Homo sapiens: one gene and its partners. The protein of the gene in region 1 purifies or fractionates together with the protein of each later gene. This does not show direct contact. Each region holds a gene or a part of one and is shown on either strand. Other genes may lie near its edges. The genes, in order: TNS1, SNX21, EVA1C and LPXN.

The links.
Region 2: the proteins of TNS1 (region 1) and SNX21 purify together in Homo sapiens (co-immunoprecipitation; one large-scale study listed by IntAct). This does not show direct contact.
Region 3: the proteins of TNS1 (region 1) and EVA1C purify together in Homo sapiens (co-immunoprecipitation; one large-scale study listed by IntAct). This does not show direct contact.
Region 4: the proteins of TNS1 (region 1) and LPXN purify together in Homo sapiens (co-immunoprecipitation; one large-scale study listed by IntAct). This does not show direct contact.

What each region holds. Positions count from the first base shown.
Region 1 is NC_000002.12:217,845,287-217,850,738, forward strand, and holds part of TNS1 (tensin-1), read right to left. Parts: intron 4,903-5,452; exon of another isoform or gene 4,575-4,902; coding exon of another isoform or gene 4,391-4,574; intron 3,802-4,390; coding exon 2,224-3,801; intron 1-2,223.
Region 2 is NC_000020.11:45,831,409-45,837,591, forward strand, and holds the start of SNX21 (sorting nexin-21), read left to right. Parts: upstream 1-2,390; 5' UTR 2,391-2,511; coding exon 2,512-2,532; intron 2,533-2,792; coding exon 2,793-3,060; intron 3,061-3,550; coding exon 3,551-3,708; intron 3,709-3,769; exon of another isoform or gene 3,770-4,185; coding exon of another isoform or gene 4,186-4,269; exon of another isoform or gene 4,270-4,282; coding exon of another isoform or gene 4,283-4,285; exon of another isoform or gene 4,286-5,927; intron 5,928-6,183. UniProt on the Homo sapiens protein: Binds to membranes enriched in phosphatidylinositol 3-phosphate (PtdIns(P3)) and phosphatidylinositol 4,5-bisphosphate. May be involved in several stages of intracellular trafficking.
Region 3 is NC_000021.9:32,501,816-32,507,267, reverse strand, and holds part of EVA1C (protein eva-1 homolog C isoform 1 precursor), read right to left. Parts: intron 3,343-5,452; coding exon 3,253-3,342; exon of another isoform or gene 3,165-3,252; intron 1-3,164. UniProt on the Homo sapiens protein: Binds heparin.
Region 4 is NC_000011.10:58,568,176-58,573,627, reverse strand, and holds part of LPXN (leupaxin), read left to right. Parts: intron 1-2,914; coding exon 2,915-3,072; intron 3,073-5,452. UniProt on the Homo sapiens protein: Transcriptional coactivator for androgen receptor (AR) and serum response factor (SRF). Contributes to the regulation of cell adhesion, spreading and cell migration and acts as a negative regulator in integrin-mediated cell adhesion events.

The DNA of each region.
Region 1 (5,452 bases):
AGTGTATGTTCCAGCTTCTTACGGCAGAGATGTAGACAGAGCAGAAAGAAGTAGTGCTGAAATCTATCTTCCCTGCCTCCCAGACTTTTCCACACATTGATCTTGTCTGTCTGCCTTTATCTACACAGGCACTGCAGATACCCTGAAAGGCTACTAAGGAAGTTACTCATGCAGGACCTGCTGACATAAATTCTGTCATAATGACAGGGCTTGAACCAAAGAGGCAACTTCATAGACCTGGGAGCCAAATATAAGTGTCCCCTCTATACATTTCATCCCTTCTCTTGAGTCACTCCCAGTTGATGGAGGAAATGGCAACAGGGTTAGGGAATGGGAACATTGTGCCAACAGTATCCTTCCCTATCTATGACTTCATGGCAGCCAAAGCCTGAGAGGCTACAGAATATGGAAGTTGACAGTCAAGCCTTCGAAAGCTGGTAGGAGAGAAAGGGCTAAAAGGCAGTCCACTACAAGATGGGCATCCTCCCAGGGCCATTAGGGTTATGGCCTCCTCTTGAGCAAGCTCCAGGAGAGCTGCATGGAAGGGTTCTTGTAGGGGAGGAAATGTATTCTGCTCCCCCAGAGAGAAGGCTCCTGGATCCTGCCCCTCATTAGACTAGCGTGTCACTAATCTTTAGGCCACCACTCCAACCTTGCAAAATATTGGGAGAGGAATTAAATTCCCAGGGAATTCAGAAAGCCCCATCCCTCTCACCTCAAAAAAACCAAGAAGAAAAGGATCTCTGCTGACAAAGCCAGGGGGGTATCTTTATCTCAGGGGCCCAGATGTGGGAGAAGGCAGAAGTCAAAGCCCATATGGACCACCCATGGAGCGTTTCATCCGAGGTTAAGAACTGCCCATCCTTTGTTCCGATGCTCAGGTAAAAGGAATTGTTACTGCTAGGCCAGCTCTCTATGGGAGGTGAGGCTGATTGCCAATTTCCATGGTGTAAATACTCCTGCAATGGCCAATTTCAAGCTATTATACCAATAGTGGAGCTGGGGACTCTGCTCTGCTCTGAAGTATAGGAGCAGGGAGCCTGTGTCCCCACACCAGGTCCTGAGCCAGCTGGCCTGCCCCAAGCTGCTTCCCTAAACCCACGGTCCATCTCCAGGGAGGGTGTTTCCTTCCCTCCCTGCAGCTGGCATGGTGACTCAGCTTCCCCTAAATTTAGGAAAAGGGGTGGAGGACAGAGACAGCTGCCCAGGCTCCTCTCCTCCTCGCTGAGCTCCCACCACCCTGTCAGCTGAGGGGCTGGCACAAGGTCCACCCAAATCCACAGTCTCTGGTCCACCCCTGTCTGGGCTCCACCTCCAGAATAAAGTCACCCAACAGGTTTTCCTGCCAAGTTCAGCCACCCTTGTGGAATGGGCATAGGCTTAGACCAGTGGGAAGGGAACCTCGCAGCTGTCTCTCCCAACATGGCCCCAGACATGCTGTCATTTCTTGCCTTTGTCTCCCCAAAAGCTCTTCTGAGTGTCCCACTTTCCTCTCTCCCAAAAGAGAAGCCCACTCTCTGATAGGAAAAGGAGCTTTGTCTCTCAGCACCTACTTCCCATACAGGGCTGGTCCTCAGCAAAGACTAACAGGAAAACTGACTTAGAAGGGGAACCTTGGCCTCCCCGCCCCAGCAGATAGAGCCTAAGGGCTTGAGGATACCCTCTCGGACTCTTTCATGGCCTCTAGGAGCGGGACCTAAGAGGGAATTTGAGTCTACAAAGGCCTCCCTCCAGCCTTCTCCACGTCTCCCCCAAGGAACTAAAGTCTGAGGACAGACAGCACGACAGGCAATTGCAGAGTCTCCTCTGTGTCTAGAAAGTCTGTACTCCAACCCCAAAGTCACCACCTCCTGGAAGCTTTCCCTGACTGCCCTAGGTGGTAAGCTTTGCTTTCCCAGGCTCTGGGATCTTGGTCCCACCTCTGTCACCGTACACATTACTCTCTAATGAAATCATCTGTCTGTGTATCTGTCCGCTCACTAGACTGTAAATTTCTTGAGGGCAGGAATTGCTTGACATTGAACTTTGAAACTTGGTGTCTGGCTTGGTGCCTATCAGACAATGAATGCAGGAAGGGATAACTGGCTAGCATATAGGCTCCTGAGAGCCTCCTCCCACCAGTGAAAGCAACATCTGCTTAGGGGTCATGGCTGGACCTGCACCTCCCCCCAGCAAGACCAAATAAGGAAGGGGTAGAAGGAGTCAGGACTGAATACCTCTTACCTGCTACCCTGTGGGCCACCAGCCCTTCTAAATTCAATGGCTCCTCCTCTGGAGTCCGGGAGGGGTCTGAAGTCGCTTCCTTTGGTGAGAGCAGAGGCTGAGCAGTGAGGCCAGGGAGAGAGGCTGGGGGTTGCTGAGGCCCTGGAGGGCTGTGGGTGGTCGGAAGGAAGGCAGGCAAGGAGGAAGAGGCTGGGCTCTTTGAATGGAAATCCTGGTTAGGCCCAGCCAAACATGGCTGATAGTCATAAGGTGAGTAAGACCTGCCAGGAGGGACAGACTCCAGAGAGGCCCGTGGGGCTGGCTCAGGGGTTCCCAACGAATGCCCACTGGGGATATAGCCAGATCTGGACTGGGTCAGTGGATGGGACTGACGGGAGGATCCAGAGAGGGGCTGGGAGGAGAGTGGAGAAGCCCCTGGCCAGGCCCCGGGGACACTCTGGGACTTGTGTAGTGGGGCAGCAGCGGAGGCTGGCTCCAGGTCCAGCATCAGCATATTGAGTGTTTCGATGGACTGTTCAATCTCCTGCTGGGAGGCTGCTCGCGGGAACTCAGGGAGACTGGGGATGGGGGTCTCTGCCAATGGCTGAGGGCTGGGCCTGCTGGCTACAAGACTCTCCAAGTGGGCTCTTTCCTGCTGGCGTGGAGGTGGGCGAGGCTGCTGCTGCTGCTGCTGCTGCTGCTGCCACGAATTCAGTCCCCTTTGCACAGCCTCCCGGCTGCTTCCCCCTCGGACCGGAGCTGGGGGCAGCTGGGGTTCAGCTTCCGAAAAGGATTGAGAGCGGAACATACCGCTGGGGTCATGGGCATAGTGGGAGGTGGTCACTGGCTGTGGCCAGGCTGGGTGGGGCCCCTCCCTCTGGTAGCCAGCTAAACCCTCCTGTGCAGAGTAGGAGGGCCGCATGGGGGCCGTGTGGCCAGCATGGGCAGGCCCCGCCCGGCTGGCAGACTCGTAGGGGTAGCCTCCTCCATTGACCATAGGCTCCATGGGGTAGGACTTGTCCAGACCGTTGGTCAGTGGGGACAGGGCCTCTGGGTAGCCCCCCTCACTGGTGTTGGTGACCCCGTCCAGAGAAGAGAGTGTGCCCATGCTGCCCGCACTGTGACCATCCTGGTTTGGCAATTCATCGTCCAGGATGTCTGTCTCCCGCTCAGATGCTAACGCCCCACCATTGACATGAACCTGGGCTGGGACAACGTGGCGTCCAGAGGAGGGCACAGCCGAGCCCCCTGCTGGGCGGGACCTGAGGTGCTGGGTGTGGTACATGGCGCCTTGCTTCTCTCGCTCTAAGCCAAAGCCACTCAGCAGGCGGTCCAGCTCCCGCTTCTCCTGGGGACTCAAGGCAGCAGTGGCACTGGAGGCCCCGGGGACAGGCTCGTCGGTCTTGTCGGTCTTGGTGGAGGCTGTGGAGTTGCCCGAGTCGCTGCTCACAGAAAGCGTGTGTTCCACGTGGTTGGGGGTGGCCGACAGTGTAGGACGTGTGGCATTAACAGCCCCGGTGCTGCCGTGCAGGGAGTCTTTCTTCTTCACCTTAGCATACAGGCTCCCATCTAGTGGCCCCTGCGTGTGTCCCACCACCTCTGCAAGGGACAGAGCCGGAGGGGAGACAACAGACAACAGACATTAGCGGGAGGCAGGGGTATCATCCACTCTGCCAGAGAAAGAAGCTAAGAGCTCCCATGCCCTGCATCCTAAAACCTCCTCTCACCACCCTGAGGTGGGGAAAAGGGGAGCTGACAGAAAGACCTCTACCCCAGGCTTTGGGGCAGAGCCTCACCAACACTCAGCTTCAGGGCCGGGCAGTGGAGCCCAACACTGAGCAGGAAGTGCTGGGGGCAAATCGCTCCAGTCCCAAGCCTAGCTCTGGCATTTCACCAGCTTCCTGACCAGAGGCATGAATAACTCTCTGAGCCAGCCTCCTGGTCCATAAAATGGGGATAATAATAGAATCTGGTTGAACCATCTGAAATTGCCAATATTCATTAAATACACTGTGCTTTGAGTTTAAATGAGTTGACACATGACATGCTGAGACCAGTTCCTGGCACGTGATGGGAGTTCAACAGCTGGGAGCCCTAACCATCACCATTATGAGTATCATTAATTCCTGAATGACCATTTCCAAAGCATCCTCAGTCCCCTCCGCCACCCCATCTCAAAAAGTCTCACCCCTGCTTCGATGTCTGGAGTTCCCACTCTGGATTAGAGGCAGAATGCCAGGAGAGTAGCCATTGCCTTGAATGCCCATAGAGGTATCAGCATGGACGGCCAGTCGCCCCGAGGATAGCCTTTGCCCACGGAAGCAGGGGGAGAACCCAGGAGGGCAGTAGGGTGCAGCAAAGGGCCCCACCATGCCCAAGGTGGTGGTGGCAGGGAGGCTGAAGGCAGAGCTGGGACTCTCTAAGACAAGCTTGCCCTCAGCTAGATTTGTCTCCAGCTCAATGCAAAGGATGTGATAGAACCATTCAGAGATACAATGTCATTCATGCTGCCCACTGCCACATTTCCAGAGGCTCCTCCCAGCTCCTCCCCAGCACTGCCCACTCCTGATGGACCCCTACCCCTCCACCAGCAAGCTCAGCCCATACCACTCAAGACTCCAGGAAAGGGACGCGGGTCCTGGGAAGGTATGCCGGGCAGGATCACAGCAGGTCTGCAAAGACGAGCATCCTGATCCCACTGCTCTGAGCCAGCCCGGGGGCCCCTGAAGAACAGGCCAAGGTGGGGCTCAGCCAAGCCAACAGTCCCTGTGCCAGAGGGGACACGCTTTTCCTATGCTGGAGGATGGGGGGCATATAGGGTGCTGATGCAGGGGGTTCAGGGACTAGGGCAGGAGGGGAAGCGTCTTAGGGATCGTGAACACAAAAACAAGATGTCTTCATGGGGGAGAGGGTCCTCTTGTCTGCAGACAGCTCTGAGGACCCCCCTGAGCAACACTTTCTCTGGAAGGAAAAAGTGAGCGCTGGGTGGCTCGGGGCCAAAGGGCTGACTCAGGAATGAAGAACTTCCCCGCCCAGAGGAACTCAGTGATTTCACACCCTGTACAGTCAGCAGCCCAGCCACCAGCCCCGACAGACACACACACACACACACACACACACACACACACACACACACGCACGCACGCACCTCCCCTTACTCTAATCCAGGCTCTCCGTTAGCAAGGAAAAAAGCCAGCTCCCAAAGACTGCACCAGCTCCAGCCAGACACCAGCAGTCACACACCGAGCCA
Region 2 (6,183 bases), on another chromosome or scaffold:
TCTACTAAAAATACAAAAATTAGCCGGGTGTGGTGGCACATGCCTGTAATTCCAGCTACTTGGGATTACTTGTAATTCCAGCTACTTGGGATTACTTGAGGCAGGAAAATCGCTTGAACCCAGGAGATGGAGGTTGTAGTGAGCCAAGAGTGTGCCATTGGACTCCAGCCTGGGTGATGGAGTAAGACTCTGTCTCAAAAAAAATAAAATAAATAAAAATAAATAAAAAAGGAAGAAGAAGCAGGAGGAGGAAGAAGGAAGCAAAAAGAAGAAGAAATAATAATAGTGGAGAATGCGCAACCTTCAGATCTCCTAGTTCTGACTGTTTATATGACCCAGCATAAGCCCTTCCCCTCACTAAGCCTCAGACTACCTATCTGTAAAATGGAGGTGATAGGCCAGATTTCTGAGGGGCCCTCCTGCTCTAACAACCCATGGTTTCATGAAGACCAGCTTTGTGCCCAGACATGTAAGGCATATACCGAAGGACAAGTTATTTTTTAACCAATGGTTGGTGAATGAGTGAGTGTTGAATTAATGAATGAAGTATGCCTTTTTTGTCCCAATATCTTGCCCATAAGCCAAATGAAGAGTAATTCGAGGTTTGAAATTGTGCAAACTGGCCAGGCACAGTGGCTCACGCCTGTAATCCCAGCACTTTGGGAGGTAGAGGCAGGTGGATCACTTGAGGCCAGGTGTTCCAGATCAGCCTGGCCAATATGGTGAAACCCCACCTCTACTAAAAATACAAAAATTAGCCGCATGGTGGCACATGCCTGTAGTCCCAGCCACTCAGGAGGCTGAGGCAGGAGAATTGCTTGAACCTGGGAGGCAGAGGTTACAGTGAGCCAAGATTGCATCACTGTACTCCAGCCTGGGCGACAGAGCAAGACTCTGTCTCCCTCTCTAAAAATAAATAAATAAATAAATAAAATTGCACAAACTTAGGCTTAAAATCCCAGCCCCTCTATTTCCCAGATGTGGATCTTGGGGAAGTCACTTTGCCTCAGTTTCTTCATCTTGAAAATGGACCATTAATGTCCAGTTACAGCCTCTTCCCCAGGACGCTGTGAGGGAGAGATGTGACAGTAAAGTGCCTAGAGCAGGATGTAGAAAGTGGACCCTCAGAAAATAAGAACCCCAGCCTTTCTGCTCACATGGGAGGGCAGGGAGCTGAAATACCTTCTGCTTATCCCAAGGCATTTTCCCCCACCCTTCTCTCCTGTGCCACTCAGAAAGGGTAGGAGCTACTTTGGAGAGATTTTGATTTTATTTATTGTATTGTATAACTATCAAAATCTGCCCTAACAACTGATACCTAGGCTTTGTGACAGGAAGCCACAATAACTTTTTCTTGACCTGCAGCTGCCCTGCGGATAAAAGATAAAACAAAGCTGGGGAGCCACTGAGATTATCAGGCCTGCTGCACAGGAAAAGGGCAGTATGCAGCAGGGGACCTGGGCTCCAGGCCCCATACTCAGAAACCTCTGAGGGAGGCAGAGGCAGGTGGATCACTTGAGCCCAGGAATTCGAGACCAGCCTGGGCAACATGGCCAAATCCCATCTCTACAAAAAATACAAAAATTAGCTGGGTGTGGTGGCGAACGCCTCTATTCCTAGCTACTGGGGAGGCTGAGGTGGGAGGGATGACCTGAGCCCAGGGAGGCGGAGGTTGCAGTAAGCAGAGATGGTGCCACTGCACTCCAGCCTAGGTGACAGAGTGAGACTCCATCTCAAAAGAGAAAGAAAGAAAGAAAGAGAGAGAGAGAAAGAAAGAAAGAGAGAGAGAGAAAGAAAGAAAGAAACCTCTGGCAAGCTGTGTGGTTAAGCCAAGTAACTCACCCTCTCTGGTCCTCAGTTTCCCTGTTTGCCTACTTCCCATGTGTGAGGTTCAAATCAGATTGTGCAAGCCTGTGAACACTGTAGAAACAATAATCATTATGTAAGTGATCATTTCGTCAGCCTTTGCTCTATGCCAGGCACGGGACGAGCGTTCTTACAAGAGCTGCAAAATTAGTTTTAGCAGTATTGTTCCTGTTTTACATATGAGAAAACCTAGGCTCAGCGAGGTCAGATTCCAACCAACCCAAATCACGCATCTTCTCCTGGCCCTTCGTTTTCTCTCGGGAGACATGGCCTCCCTACTATTGCATAATTACTTTGTGAAGTTAAAGAGCGTTGGGTGGAAATGAGTGGGACAGATTGGAGATGACGTGGGTGGGGTGGGAGGATTCAAGGAGGGTACGCGCCTGGCCGGACTGGGATGACTCTGCGGCAGGCCTGGGACTCCCTCAGGCCGACCCAGGCTTCCCAAGTCCCTCCTGGAGCCAAGGGCCCGGGATTCTCGGGCGGCTCGGGCGAGCGGGCGGGGCAGGAGGCGGGGCGGCGGCAGGAAGCTGCCCGAGCGGCGCTCTGAGCGGCCTGAGCCCGGCGGAGCCCTGCAGAACCCGGCCGACCTCCATGGGCTGCGGGGGGCTGCACCCGGACCCCTGGGGCGCGGCGCGCCCCTGAATGCACCGTGGGACGCAGGAGGTAGAGGCGCACGAGGCGGCGCAAGAGACATCGGGAGGGTCCTGAGCCCCTCCGGGGAGGAACGCGGTCCTAGGCTGAGTGGGTTGGGGGGAAAGCGATGCTGGCTGGGTCCCCTGGTTCGCAAGACCTCGGACTGCCAGGGGGTGGGGCCTCACCGCGCCCCTCCCTCTCCGGTTCGGGCCCCGCCCCTCCTCCTCCTGCGCCGGGCTGGGGTACCCCTCCTCCGGGATCCGGTACACAGCGTCGCGCGCTCCCCCCAGGGTGCCATGGCCTCCCGGCTCCTGCACCGGCTGCGGCACGCCTTGGCCGGCGACGGCCCCGGGGAGGCGGCGGCCAGTCCAGAGGCCGAGCAGTTTCCGGAGAGCTCAGAGCTGGAGGACGACGACGCCGAGGGCCTGTCCTCCCGACTCAGCGGCACCCTCAGCTTCACCAGCGCCGAGGACGACGAGGACGACGAGGACGAGGACGACGAGGAGGCTGGCCCTGACCAGCTGCCCCTCGGGGATGGGACGTCAGGAGAAGACGCAGGCGAGTGCAGGAGGACGGAGGCGGGAACCCTGGGGCTCGATTAGGCCTCCATCCCAGCCGCGTTCCCAGAGCATCCAGGGCGCTAAGTTGATCCAGCTGAAACTCCCACACTTCTTAAAGCGCCTGGGCCACCTCTTGGCTGTGTGACCTTGAGAGAGTCTTAACCCCCCTCTGAGCCAAGTTTTCCCTTGTGTCAAGTGGGAGAACTCACTCTCATCTCAGAATTGCTGCAGGCATTAAATGTACAGGGCTTGGGATCCGAATGGAAATGATGTATTAACGATATTTTGAGGGTGGAGCTATTAATTTAGCCCCTACTGTCTGCCAGGCACGGTGTTTGGCTCCTCGGTGCCTCTCTGTCCCTCAGTTTCCATTTCTGTAAAAAGGGGGTAAGTCCTGCCTCACACTGGGAGGATGAGTGAGGCCACGTCAGTGGTTGATGTCGACCCTGGCCCTAGGCCCATTGATATGACTGGTCATGTGTCTGCAGAACGGAGCCCCCCACCTGATGGGCAGTGGGGCAGTCAGCTCCTGGCGCGGCAGCTGCAGGATTTCTGGAAGAAGTCCCGGAACACCTTGGCACCCCAGCGGCTGCTCTTCGAAGTGACCAGCGCTAACGTTGTCAAGGACCCGCCCTCCAAGTACGTGGTGAGTGAGGGTCTAGAACCCCTGGGCTGTGAGTCCAGAAGTATGGCTAGGAGCAAGTAGGGAAGACCCCAACTTCCTGAGGGGTCTATGTAGTTATAAATGGTTACCTTGTTTACAAATGGGGAAACTGAGGTCAGAAAGGGGATGTAACTTGAGCAAATCCTCACACAAGACTTAGTTTCCTTGAGACTGACTGAAGTGGGGATTAAGGACCTTCCTCTTAACCTGGTTTTGAGACTAAGAGAACTGGTGTGTGCACTTCCCCACCCAGCCCACAAGGTTTTTGCAAATTGTAGCAAGATGTGAGATACAGAGAGACAGATGTTATCTGGGTCAAACTTGAGATCCAAGTTGCATGGGCTGGTAGTTAAGGAAATAGGCTTTCGATCCAGACCAATCTTGACTCCCACTTATTTCCAGTTGTTTGACTCTGGGTGAGTTGTTTAACCTTGGTCATCTTCCGTTTCCTCATTATAGCAATGGGGAAAATGCAGAAGATTACAGCAGGAGTTAAATGAGACAATGGACAAAAAGCCCTTAGCAGTGTGCCTGGCATTATGACGTGGTCAATGAAATGGTAGCTATGTCATCATTATTTAACTTTGGGTTGAAAATGTTTGTCATCTAGGGCCTGCTGTGTCCTTATAACGCACAGGTCAATCAGTTCTCAAGCACCCGACCTTGTCCCTAAGGGCTAGACTTAGAGGGTTGGTGGAGGTTAGGATGAAGAGCAATGTTGGGGAGGACCTTGGAGTCCCTTGCTGTTTTCCTTGCTGTTGAGAGACTGACTTGGAGAATGAGGTCTGCTCCTTTAATGCCCACAGCGACTCCTGCTCCAGTCCCTTTTCAGGCCAGGCCTGAAAGCCAGCTGAGCTGGCCACTCCTGTCAGTGGCAGCTCTCCATCTCTCACTCCCCTCCTCTTCACCACCCTTCTCCACCTCTGACTCAGCAGGAGGGGGCCTGGAGCCCAGTCCCACATCTGGGCCTCTCCACCCTTTTCTGTTGCTGTTAGTAAGCAAGGGCCACACCCATGGGGTGACTACTCCAATTTCAGCAGGGACCGACTCCGATTATTGAGTCTTTTAAAAAAATTTTTGAGGCCGGGCGTGGTGGCTCACGCCTGTAATCCCAGCACTTTGGGAAGCCGAGGCGGGCGGATCACGAGGTCACGAGACCATCCTGGATAACACGGTGAAACCCCGTCTCTACTAAAAATACAAAAAAATAGCCGGGCATGGTGGCAGGCGCCTGTAGTCCCAGTTACTTGGGAGGCTGAGGCAGGAGAATGGCGTGAACCCAGGAGGCAGAGTTTGCAGTGAGCCGAGATCGAGCCACTGCAGTCCGGCCTGGGCAACAGAGCGAGACTCCGTCTCAAAAAAAAAAAAAAAAAAAAAAAAAAATTTTGAGACAGGGTCTCGTTCTGTCACTCAGGCTGGAGTGCAGTGGTGCAGTCATAACTCACTACAACCTCCAACTGGGCTCAAGCTATCCTCCCACCTCAGCCTCCCAAGTAGCTAGGACTACAGCTGTGCACCACCACGTGTGGCCAATGATGAAGTCTGAAGTGGCAAAGGTCTCAGAACTCTGGGTTCATACACTGGAAGGGGACACCAAGGAATAGTTCAGAGGCTGAGAGGAATGGGGGTGACTGTGGGTACCTGGATGGGAAGGGATGACAAGATAGAGCAGGATGGCCAAGTATGCCCCGGCCTGTGTCTGGAGAAGCAAGGCACCTCCTGTGTACAATGGGGACCCTAATTCCCCACTCAACTTGTGGGGGTGAAGAGCACAGGCTTTGGAATCAGATCAACCTGAGTTTAAATCCCAGCTGGGCTGTTTTCCAGCTGTGTGACTTACGGCAAGTCTTTGAGCCCTTTTCCCCCTCTTTGAGCCTGCTTCCTCAGCTGTCAGAGATAAGGACCTTCCTTGCAGTGCTGTTGTGATGATTAAATGAAATCACAGATGTAAAGAGTGCTTGGTACAACAGGAGGCACAGGGTAAATGCTTGGGTAATGGAACTACTGTCATTATCACCCATCTGGCTGCATGTTACAAGGTCAATGAGATAATGGATACAAAATGTAAACTAGATGAACATAAAGGCTTATTATATAGACCAGTGTGTCCTGAAGAAAACTGGTGTCCTAAAGTGTGTCCTGCAGAAAACTAGTTCCCTGGAATGTTAATAGCTGTTTCTAAATAAAGGTTTTGCAGGCAATATGTTTTGAGAATGCAGAGTTAAATGAGAATACAATAAGTTTCTTTATTGTTAAAGTATTTAATCCCTAATAGTGATATACACTGTGAATCTTCAAGAGGACAGAGTAAGCAAACCTAACTGACCAGGAGTGGCTAGAGTATTGTCAGTTCCACAGAACAAATGTGAGAGAAAGATCTGGATTTGGTGTTAGGGTGCCTTTAACATCTAACACTGGTTAACTCTCCTTTTAAACCTGTTGGCTTGGCATTATAGG
Region 3 (5,452 bases), on another chromosome or scaffold:
GAGTAAGTCTGTATTATTGAAATGACAGTAAATTCAAACATACCTAAGAAGCTTTTTCAATGTTGGGGAAACCATCTCACAGATCATTCAGATGACCCCAGGAGATGCTTCACCAGGGACCCTTGGACATCCTCCTGTCCCTTCTGCCAACCTCTGTGCTTTAATATCAGGGGACAAACCTCTCGATTTTGGTTTCTCTTCTCCTTGTCCCCATGTACACTGGACTGCACTACTGTGTCAAAGCTACTTGCAGCCTGACCTGGGAAATGTACTTTTGGATTCACTCCATTTGCCGCCTATTTGGGTGGTTTGGGCTGGAAACTGCCCTGCTCACACTCTTGGCTCCCAGCTGCTCCTGCTTTGGGGGTGCCTAGAGACCCCAGCTCATCCCGTGGGTCACATCCCCACAGTGGGGCCGGGGATGCGACTGAGAGTTGTCTGGGCACCTCTCTCCAGCAGCAGTGAGGATGGAGCTCAGCACTGTGTGACATTGGCTGGTGGCCACTGCCTGTTTGGGTCGAAATGACCCAGCCTGATGTCCACATGCACCTCTGTGGCACACTGGCCTGCAGACCCCTGAGCATGCACTGCATGCTTCCCACCTCTAGAGTGGCCACCCAGACAGCGACATAGACACACCAAGAAAACCCACAGGCAAGCCCAGAGGCACCTGTTCTACTAGGGCTTTGTGAGCCTCTGTGATTTGAGTCACGAGCTTCTTGTGGTGATTTCATTTAGCTAACATCCAACACAGTGCATTTAGAGACTCTTTCTCTTGGACATTATATGGAGGCGTGGTCATGGTTTGCTAAGATAAATGTCACCAAACACCCCTCAATAAAATCAAATAACAGCTCATCAAGTCCTTACATTTTAAAAAAATGGACATCTTATAAATAGCAAATATTGGATGACAATAAAGCACAGGAAAAAGCTCATAAGCCCATATCAGCAGTCATCATTCAGTTGTTCCTTAACTACTGACTGTGCACCTGTTCTGTACCAGCACCGCATCCTAGATACAGGGATACCACACAAAATAAGATGACAAGGCACCTGACCCTGTGGAGCTGAGCCACTAGCAGGAGAGATAGTCACTAAACGAATATCTCTATCCTGTGGTTTCTGGGAATGACAATCACATAAAAGGATAGAAAGAGATGGAGGAAAGCTAATTTAGACAACTCAGGATCAGAGTGGGGAGGTGGTTGCATCCCTCAAAATTCAGAGTAGCTGGAGTGCAAGCCTTGTATTAGCTGAGCCTGAATCCTGGCCCTGCCGCTGTCCATGGTGTCCTCAGGCAAATGGCTCAACTCCTCTGACCACCGGCTTCAAGTGCAGAACAGGGGATCAGAGTCCCATCTCTCAGGGTTGTTGCTATGGACTGAATTGTGTTGCCCCCAGTTCACTCATTAGGAGCTAATTAAGGTTAAAGGAGGCCATAAGGGGGGAATCCTAATCTGATAGAATTGGTGGTTTTATAAAAAGAAGAGATGTCTCTGTCTCTGTCTCTCCCCCTCTCTGCCATGTGAGGACAAGCAAGAAGGCTGCTGTCCACAACCCAGGAAGAGAGCCCTTACCGGAAAGTGATTGGTGGATACTTTGATCATGAAATTCTGGCCTCCAGAACGGTGAGAAAATCAATGTCTGTTATTTAGGCCATCTGGTCTCGGGTACTTTGTTATGGCAGCTGGGCTGGCTAAGGCAGTTGTTGAGAGGAACGGACAAGGTAGTTGGGGTAAAGCACACAGCAAGGCCACAGCTCACTGAGCGCAATGTCGGTCTCGTTCCCCTTCAATCGTTATTCTCTGTCTGGAGGATTTTCATGATGGCTTTTCTCCAAGAAGCTCCCCAAGGACTTTGTAAATATGGGGATATTTCTGACAGTAAAAATCCTTACAGTTCTTAACATTGACAATGATCAGGAACAGCAAGACATGAAAATGAGAAGGTGGCTAGAAAAGAGAGGACCCACAGAAGAAACCATCAACCACACAACACACACACAGGAGGAATCCTGACGCAGGAGGACAATAGAACAGCAGGGGACCCCAAGACTGAACTTTGCATCTCATGTATTGAGATCATTCCCCAATATGGTTTGGCTGTGTCCCCACCCAAATCTCATCTTGAATTATAGCCCCCATAATCCACATGTGTCATGGGAGGGACATGGTGGGAGGTAATTGAATCATGGGGTGGGTCTTTCCCATGCTGTTCTGGTGATAGTGAATAAGTCTCACGAGATCTGATGGTTTTATAAAGGGGAGTTCCCCTGCACAAGCTCTCTTGCCTGCTACCAAGTAAGACGTGACTTTGCTCCTCATTCACCTTCCACCGAGATTGTTAGGCCTCCCTAACCATGTGGAACTGTGAGTCCATTAAACCTCTTTCCTTTATAAATTACCCAGCCTCAGGTATGTCTTTATTAATAGCATGAGAACAGACAAATACATTCCCTAAGCCTCTATTTTCCTCTGAGACAGGCTTACCCCAAATAGCCCATCTTTGCAGGCCTTGAATAGCAATACTGTTATGTATTATATTAACATGTATTTTACTGAAGGTCTCTGGTTTTTGTCTCTCTGAACATAGGCAGGCATTGCTGAAACTTGCAGATGGCATTCCAAAATGTGTTCTATCTTAAGATAAGCAGAGAGGGTGGTGAGGAAAAATTGTACATACCTTCCCCTCAATGAAGAGGTCCCCGCGGTGTGGCCGGCCTTGGTATAAGCCTTCTGGCTCTGCTAATTCATGAGGGCTGAGTCTGATTGATCCTCATGGGGAAGACTAACAAGGGAATCCTTGACAACTATTAGGAATAACACTCATGACCCAGAAAGTGGCTCTGTCTTCATGGGGCATGATCTGTCTTGTTTACTAAGTGACCTTCTGGCTCATTTTTCTTCCAGTCAGGGCTGGAATTCAATAATCCTAGTTCCTTCCCGAATTTTAGAGCTGGGAAATGCATTCCTCGGGTTTCTACTTTTCAAAAGCGAAAAATATCTGTGGAGCTCAACTCCTAAATAGTGTGACTTTGTCTGTTTATGTGGTTCTCTTGCTGACTGCCTGGTTACAACTGTGCCTGAACTCAGGCCTCTGTGTTTCTGAATCTTAGAAGTGGTGGTTGGCATGTTAAACTTGAAGTCATCGTCCTTTAGTTATCTGAGTGCTATAATTGAACAGCACATTTATTAACAAGACTTTAGTAAATCCATCAGCATTCTAGGAAGCTTTGATTCATTGACCTACCTCTAATGTAAGCAAAGGCTGCCAGAGAGTTGCTAACAAGAATTCCATCTTTCCTCAGAACCTTCGATCCGCTTGGGTCGAAGTTTATACCTGTTTCATGAAAAATGCAAGACCAATTAATCACAGCTGTTCATAGTACGCCTATTCTAAGACACCCCTGCTGCTCCTACCCCAGGGACCGCCGGAATAATTAAAAGTCACAGAAATCAAACAAATGGGCCTCTGGCTAAATTACAGAAGATTAACCCAGGAAGAGCACTTATTAAATAGTAAGCAGTCCCCGACAATATTAAAGTACAAAAAGGATTAGAAATTGTTTTAAGTGTTGGTTCCAACTTCAGGTGCTGGTCTTCCACTCCACTGTGGAAGGGAATAAGTGGATTTTCCCATCCTAAAGACAGTGACATTCATCACACCCCTCAGAGGCTTAATAATATCTCGCTTTATTTTATTTATTTATTTATTTTTGAGATGGAGTTTCACTCTTGTTGCCCAGGCTGGAGTGCAATGGCACAATCTTGGCTCACTGCAACCATCTACCTCCTGGTTTCAAGCAATTCTCCTGCCTCAGCCTCCTGAGTAGCTGGGATTACAGGCACGTGCCACCATGCCCAGCAAATTTTTGTATTTTTATTAGAGATGGGGCTTCACCATGTTGGCCAGGTTGGTCTCGAACTCCTTACCTCAGGTGATCTGCCCGCCTCGGCCTCCCAAAGTGTTGGGATAACAGGCGTGAGCCACTGCTCCCGGCCAATAATATTTCACTTTAAGCATGGATTTGATGTCTGCTGTGTGGCCAGAGATAAAACAAGCCTCCATTACAGAGGGAGGTTGTATTGGGCTACTTTTTTTGGAAACAACAGCAAAATGTGGGGCAAATCTGCTTTTAAATCCTGGTTACACTGCTGGATGGAGCTTAGCAAGTCTGTGATGGGGTAACCTGATGGCTTGGGGGACTCCTAGCCATGTCAGACAGGACAGATGCCTTTGAGGAGAGACGGCACAGGGTTGGCTCTCAGGCCCCCACTGCAGGGGGACCAGGCTGTTTATGGATCGGGTGGGAACCCTGTTAGAAAAATAAGTGGAAGCTGGGTGCGGTGTCTTACGCCTGTAATCCCAGCACCTTGGGAGGATGAGGTGGGTGGATCGCTTGAGCCCAGGAGTTTGAGACCAGCCAGGGCAACATGGCAAAGCCCTGTCTTTACAAACATAATAATAATAGTTAATTAATTAGTTAAAAGAAAGAGAAGAGGAGCTAAGGAACACAGAGCCTGCCAGAAAGCCAAGGTGGCCAGCTAGAAGGACACAGAAGAACATTACCAATAGTTTTCTTTGAGCTTTTGGAGTAGGGGTGCTTTCATATGGTTTTCATATCAAACATACTTTACTTTTATACTTAGGGGGGAAAGACCTAATACATATAATAAAGGTAACACAAGACAAAACTCTCACCACAGCCTAACATCTTAGATGCTCTACGGGGTCTCTGCAGTTTCTATTAGGGACCCCATGGGTTTGAATTCCATTCTAGATTTGATAAGAAAATCCAAATGCTCAACCCCCTCAACTCCCTACCCCTCCACCCCATTTACAAAAGCCAAGTGAAAACTAAGGAGGGGCCGGGTGCGGTGGTTCACACCTGTAATCCCAGCACTTTGGGAGGCCGAGACGAGGAGAACACCTGAGGTCAGGAGTTCAAGACCAGCCTGACTAACATGGTGAAACCCCGTCTCTACTAAAAACACAAAAATTAGCCAGGTGTGGTGGTGGACGCCTGTAATCCCTGCTACTTGGGAGGCTGAGGCAGGAGAATCGCTTGAACCCGGAGGCAGAGGTTGCAGTGAGTGGAGATTGCGCCATTGCACTCCAGCCTGGGCGACAAGAGCGAAACTCCAAAGAAAAAGAAGAAAAAGTAAGGAAAGAAAGAAAGAGAGAAAGAAAGACAGAAGAAAGAAAGAAAGAAGAAAGAAAGAAAGAAAGAAAGAAAGAAAGAAAGAAAGAAAGAAAGAAAGAAAGAAAGAAAGAAAGAAAAGAGCGAGAGAGAGAGAGGGAGGGAGAGAGGAAGGAAGGGAGGGAGGAAGGAAGGAAGGGAGGAAGGAAACTAAAGAGGAAGGTGGTGTGTACAGAGGTACAGAGGCCCTCAGGTCCTAGTTGGCCCTGGCGCCTACGCAGGTTCCAATGGGCTCAGCTTTGCAAAAAG
Region 4 (5,452 bases), on another chromosome or scaffold:
TGCACACTCATATGAAACAGGAAGAGAAAAGCCTATAACTCATGACCCAGAAAGAAGGGTTTTGATAACTTTGGTTAGCTGGTGCTTCTGAGGGCAACTTCCTACTCTTTGTGGTATGGTTTCTTCTCTCTTATAATCTTTATTGTAAATGGCTTTTTATTTTGAGCTCAGGAGGATCTTTGGCTTCTAGTTAGAGCAAAGCTTAGAAAATAGAAAAGAAAGGGGCTCTAGCATAATTGAAAGATGTAGAATAAAAATTCAAAATTCTCAAATTTGGTGTGGGGTCTGGCTAATAAAAATCTGAGGCAAAAAGTTTTCTTTCTTTTTCTACCTTAGTTTTCTTTTCTTTTTCTTTCTTTTCTTTTCTTTTTTTTTTTTTTTGAGACGGAGTTTTGCTCTTGTTGCCCAGGCTGGAGTGCAATGGCACGGTCTCGGCTCACCGCAACCTCTGCTTCCCAGGTTCAAGCGTTTCGCCTGCCTCAGCCTTCCTGAGTAGCTGGGATTGCAGACATGTGCCGCCATGCCTGGCTAATTTTGTGTTTTTAGTAGAGACGGGTTTTCTCCATGTTGGTCAGGCTGGTCTCGAACTCCCAACCTCAGGCGATCCGCCCGCCTCGGCCTCTCAAAGTGCTGGGATTTACAGGCATGAGCCACCATGCCCGGCCTATTTGTCCTTCTTTTTAAAAAACTTCTATTATAAAGAAATTTAAGTATGCAAAAGTAGAGAAAATAGTTTAATGAATTCTGATATACCCATCAACCAGTTGAAACAATCAGTTCTTCATCAGTCTTACTTCATATATATGCCCACCCATTCCTTTCACCCCTGTAATTATGTTAAAACAATTTCAGATGTCATTTTATCTGTAACTATTTTAACACTGACCTCTAAAATAAATATATATTTATACATATAACTGTAATGCCATTGCCATAACAACAGCCTTAATATTAATTCCTTAATATTGTAAAATACCATTATCACACCTAAAAACTTAACAGAATTAATTAATATTATTAAATATCATTATCACACCTAAAATAAACAGTACTTACTTGATATTATTTAATATCCAGTCAGTGTTCAATAGTCTTGATTGTTTCATTTTTACAGTAGATTTAATGATCCAAATAAAGTTCATACACTGAAATTTATTATAAGTCTCTCAACTTTTTAATGCCATAGGGTCCCACTCATCTCTTTTTTCCCATTACAGTTATTCATTTGCCCGAGAGTTTAGTTCAGTTTGCTTATCTCTAAAATGGTACATAAAAGTCAACATTTTTGATAAATGGATGATTATGAAAGATCTGTATATTTCATTTGTTAAAAAAAAAAGGATTAGATCTCTTCTAACGCCATTAAGAAATATTCATTCCTCCAAAATCTAAAATAAATGAAAAATCTGTTTTTTTTTTAATGACCTGTGAAGTTTATTTTCCTTATCTGAGAACTTTAGATGTAGGCAGGTCCTTAGAAATAATGTAATTATGTGTTTAAAGTTTGAAAGCTAAAATCTGTGGTAAGAAGTCCGCTAGAGATCCACTAATGCATTATTGAGCCATAATTTGAAAAATACTGTTCTAATCAAATTGCCTTGTTATGTAGATGAGGAAACTGCATCAGAGAAGGATGTGACATGCTCAAGGTAACCCAGAGAATATATATAAGACAGGAGACTGGAACTTCTAACTTTTAGTTAATGCAGGGGCTAGGGATCAGATAGCCCAGATTCAAGTCCTGGTTCTGCATTCATGCGCTTAAGCAAATTATTTTTGTCTCTTTCTTGTGATCTACAAAATAAGGACAATAATATCATCTGCCTCAAAGTGTTAGGATGATTAAATGAAATGTGTAAACTCCTGAGCACAGTGCCTGGCATGTGTTAATTTTTATTAATTATTATTTATTTCATTGTAACAGATAGATACTAGTATATAATACTTTTCCAAAAAAAAAAAAAGAAAAAAAACTGAAAGAGTAACAAATCCCAACTATTTAAATTGCAACATCTTACTTGATTTTGCAATATCTCAGTTTTATCCCCAACCATTTTTTCTCTCCACACCCTAAAAGACAGGATACTTATACCTTGCTTTGAAAATTTTGTTACGTGCTCAGGATAATTGTTAAGATTTAAGAAAAAATATCATTAGGATTAAGAATAAGTGTTATTTCCCTCGTATGTTTTGAAAAATGGTAATATAATTGCTTCTATTTTTCTGATAGAAAAAAGCATTTAGGATTTATTTATTTATTTATTTATTTATTTATTTATTTATTTTTTGAGACAGGGTATCACTCCTTTGGCCCAGGCTGCTGGAGTGTGGTGGCGTGATCTCGACTCATCGCAGGCTCACCTAGGCTCAGGTGATCCTCCCACCTCAGCCTCCCAAGTAGCTGGGACCACAGGTGTGCATCACCATGCTGGGCTGACTTTTTTGTATTTTTCATACAGACTGGATTTTGCTATGTTGCCCTGGTCTGGAACTCCTAGGCTCAAGGGATCCTCCCGCCTCAGCCTTCCAAAGTGCTAAGATTATGGGCATAAGCCACTATACCCAGCCCAGTTTTATTTTTTTCTAATTAAGGATATTTGTGGGGAATCTACCCTAAATGAATGATGAAAATTAATACCTGTGGTATAAAAAATCAAATTATAGCATGAGACTATGAAATTGAATGCAACCATAGAAAATAAGAAACAAACCACAATTTATGGAGGTGTTAAACATTTCTTGGTAGGATTCACCACATTCTTGAAGTGAAATAAGGAATAAGGGAAAGTATTTGAAAATAGCCATAATTGAAGAAAAGGAGATGAATGTGGGCACAGTGAAGATATTTAAGGAGAAAATGACTGTAGGGATTTAAATATTCTCTGTCATGATTCTCTTGCTTCTTATGGTGTAGATGCCTTATTGGAGGAACTGGAACGCTCCACCCTTCAGGACAGTGATGAATATTCCAACCCAGCTCCTCTTCCCCTGGATCAGCATTCCAGAAAGGAGACTAACCTTGATGAGACTTCGGAGATCCTTTCTATTCAGGATAACACAAGTCCCTTGCCGGTAAATTTTCATTTATTATAGTCCTTAAACATGGATGTTTGAGTGCATTTCTGAAAATTAACAGAATCCCACATAAAATAATATGAAAGGAGAATAATATATCCAAGAAAGAGAAAAAATAATGCCTCAATGTTAATCTAAAGATGTTTTTGGAAAGAGGAAGAGAATTGAGAAAATCATCACAGAGGAATGAGTTTTTGAGAACTAAATTTTTTTTATTTTTTTTATTTTTTTTATTTTTTTTTTATTTTTTGAGACAGAGTCACACTCTGTCTCCAAGGCTGGAGTGCAGTGGCACAATCTCGGCTCACTGCAACCTTCACCTCCCAGGTTCAAGCGATTCTCCTGCTTCAGCCTCCCAAATAGCTAGGATTACAGGCACGCACCACCATGCCCAGCTAATTTTTGTATTTTTAGTAGAGACGGGTTTTGTCATGTTGGCCAGGCTGGTCTCAAACTCCTGACCTGAGGTGATTCACCCGCCTTGGCCTCCCAAATTGCTGGGATTACAGGCATGAGCCATCACGCCCAGCCGAGAACTACATTTTTTCTAATGAGCACATGGTCACAGGCAGAGTATTGCATTCACTGGGGATATTCTGATGTTACTGTGGGGGCATCAGAGATGCCTGTTGCAGTTTGACTGGAATGGTACTCAGGCCAGAGATCACCTGAGGAAGGCCAGGTGGCAGCATAGACAAGTCTTCTCAGGGTGACTTTTTAGGGTCACTACTTCCCAGGTCTTATTTTCTGCTGAATAGATTAGGAGATTCAATTATTAGTTTATATAGAGATGATGAAGCTCTAGGGAACCAACTCAAACTAACCAAATTGACAAGTGATTATATATATATTTTAAAAACCTAGGGCAGGTGCAGTGGCTCAGGCCTGTAATTTCAGCACTTTGGAAGGCTGAGGCGGGGGGATCACTTGAAGCCAGGAGTTTGAGACCAGCCTGGGCCATATGGTGAGACCCCCATCTCTACGAAAAATTAAAAAATGAGCAGGGTGTGGTGGTGCGTGCCTATGGTCCCCGCCACTCAGGTGGCTGAAGCAGGAGGATTGCTTAAGCCCAGGTGGTCGAGGCTGCAGTGAGCTATGATTGCGCCACTCCATCCCAGCCTGGGCGACAGAATGAGAGCTTGTCTCAAAAAACAAACAAACAAAAAAAAAACAAAACTCAGAAATCAAATTTACAGTTAAAGCTATCAAGTAAAACAGCTATATTTACTCATATATGCATTCTCTTCCTATGGATAAGTCTATATGGACGTACATTATAATTAAAAGGTTGCTTGATGAGAATGGAATTAGTGTAAGATGAATTAAGTAGATGCTCTTCATAGCTGGTAATTTTGTACTATGATATTTTGATTCATCATTGTTCCCTGTATGAAATAGCCAGAAGCACAGACCTGAAATTTGAGCTCAGGGGTAGTTTACGCCCTAACTGTTCTTTTCTCCAGACACATACACAATTTTAACGATACGAATTTATCTCTCTACTAGGGAACTATTGTCTTTGTTCTCAGTGTTAGATTATAGCTGTAGGCTCCTAAGTGGTCTCCTGCCCTTTGCCCCACTGCAGTCTGTTCTCAAGCAGCCAGGGTCACCTTTAAAAACTAAAGTCAGACCCTGTCATTCTTCTACTCAAAACCCCAAAATGACTCCCATCTCATTTGGAGTAAAAGCCATAGTTTCATGTTGATCTTTCTGGGGTGACCATATATCCTGGTTTACCTGAAAGAGTCCTGGGTTTATGCTTGTTTTTCTCACATCCTATTAACTTTACTTTTTACCCCAGATCTTCAATTTTATTTAAAGTTTTCTTATCAGTATTTGCATTAAGTAAGCCACTATGGCTTAACAGACCTCCTTCCAGCTTCTTCCATGGTCTCATCTAGCAGCGTATGAAACACATATTCAGTGAACAGTGCTCTTTTTTTTTTTTTTGAGATGGAGTCTCTTTCTGTCGTGCAGGCTGGAGTGCAGTGGTGCAATCTTGGCTCACTGCCACCTCTGCCTCCCAGGTTCAAGTGATTCTCCTGCCTCAGCCTCCTGAGTATCTGGGACTACAGGCATGCACCACCATGCGCAGCTAATTTTTGTATTTTTAGTAGAGACAGGATTTCACCATGTTGACTAGGCTGGTCTTGTACTCCTGACCTCAGGTGATTTGCCTGCCTCAGCTTCCCAAAGTGCTGGGATTACAAGCACGAGCCACTGTCCCCAGCCAAATTCTGACTTAATTATGGTTAAATGCAAAAGATGGCTAATGATAACTTGTCTTTTTTCTTGATTCTGTTCAGATGAAACCTAGCTAGCAGCAACCTTTCAAGAATTATATGCAGGGTGCTGCCTGTTAAAGCTAAGAGCTCAA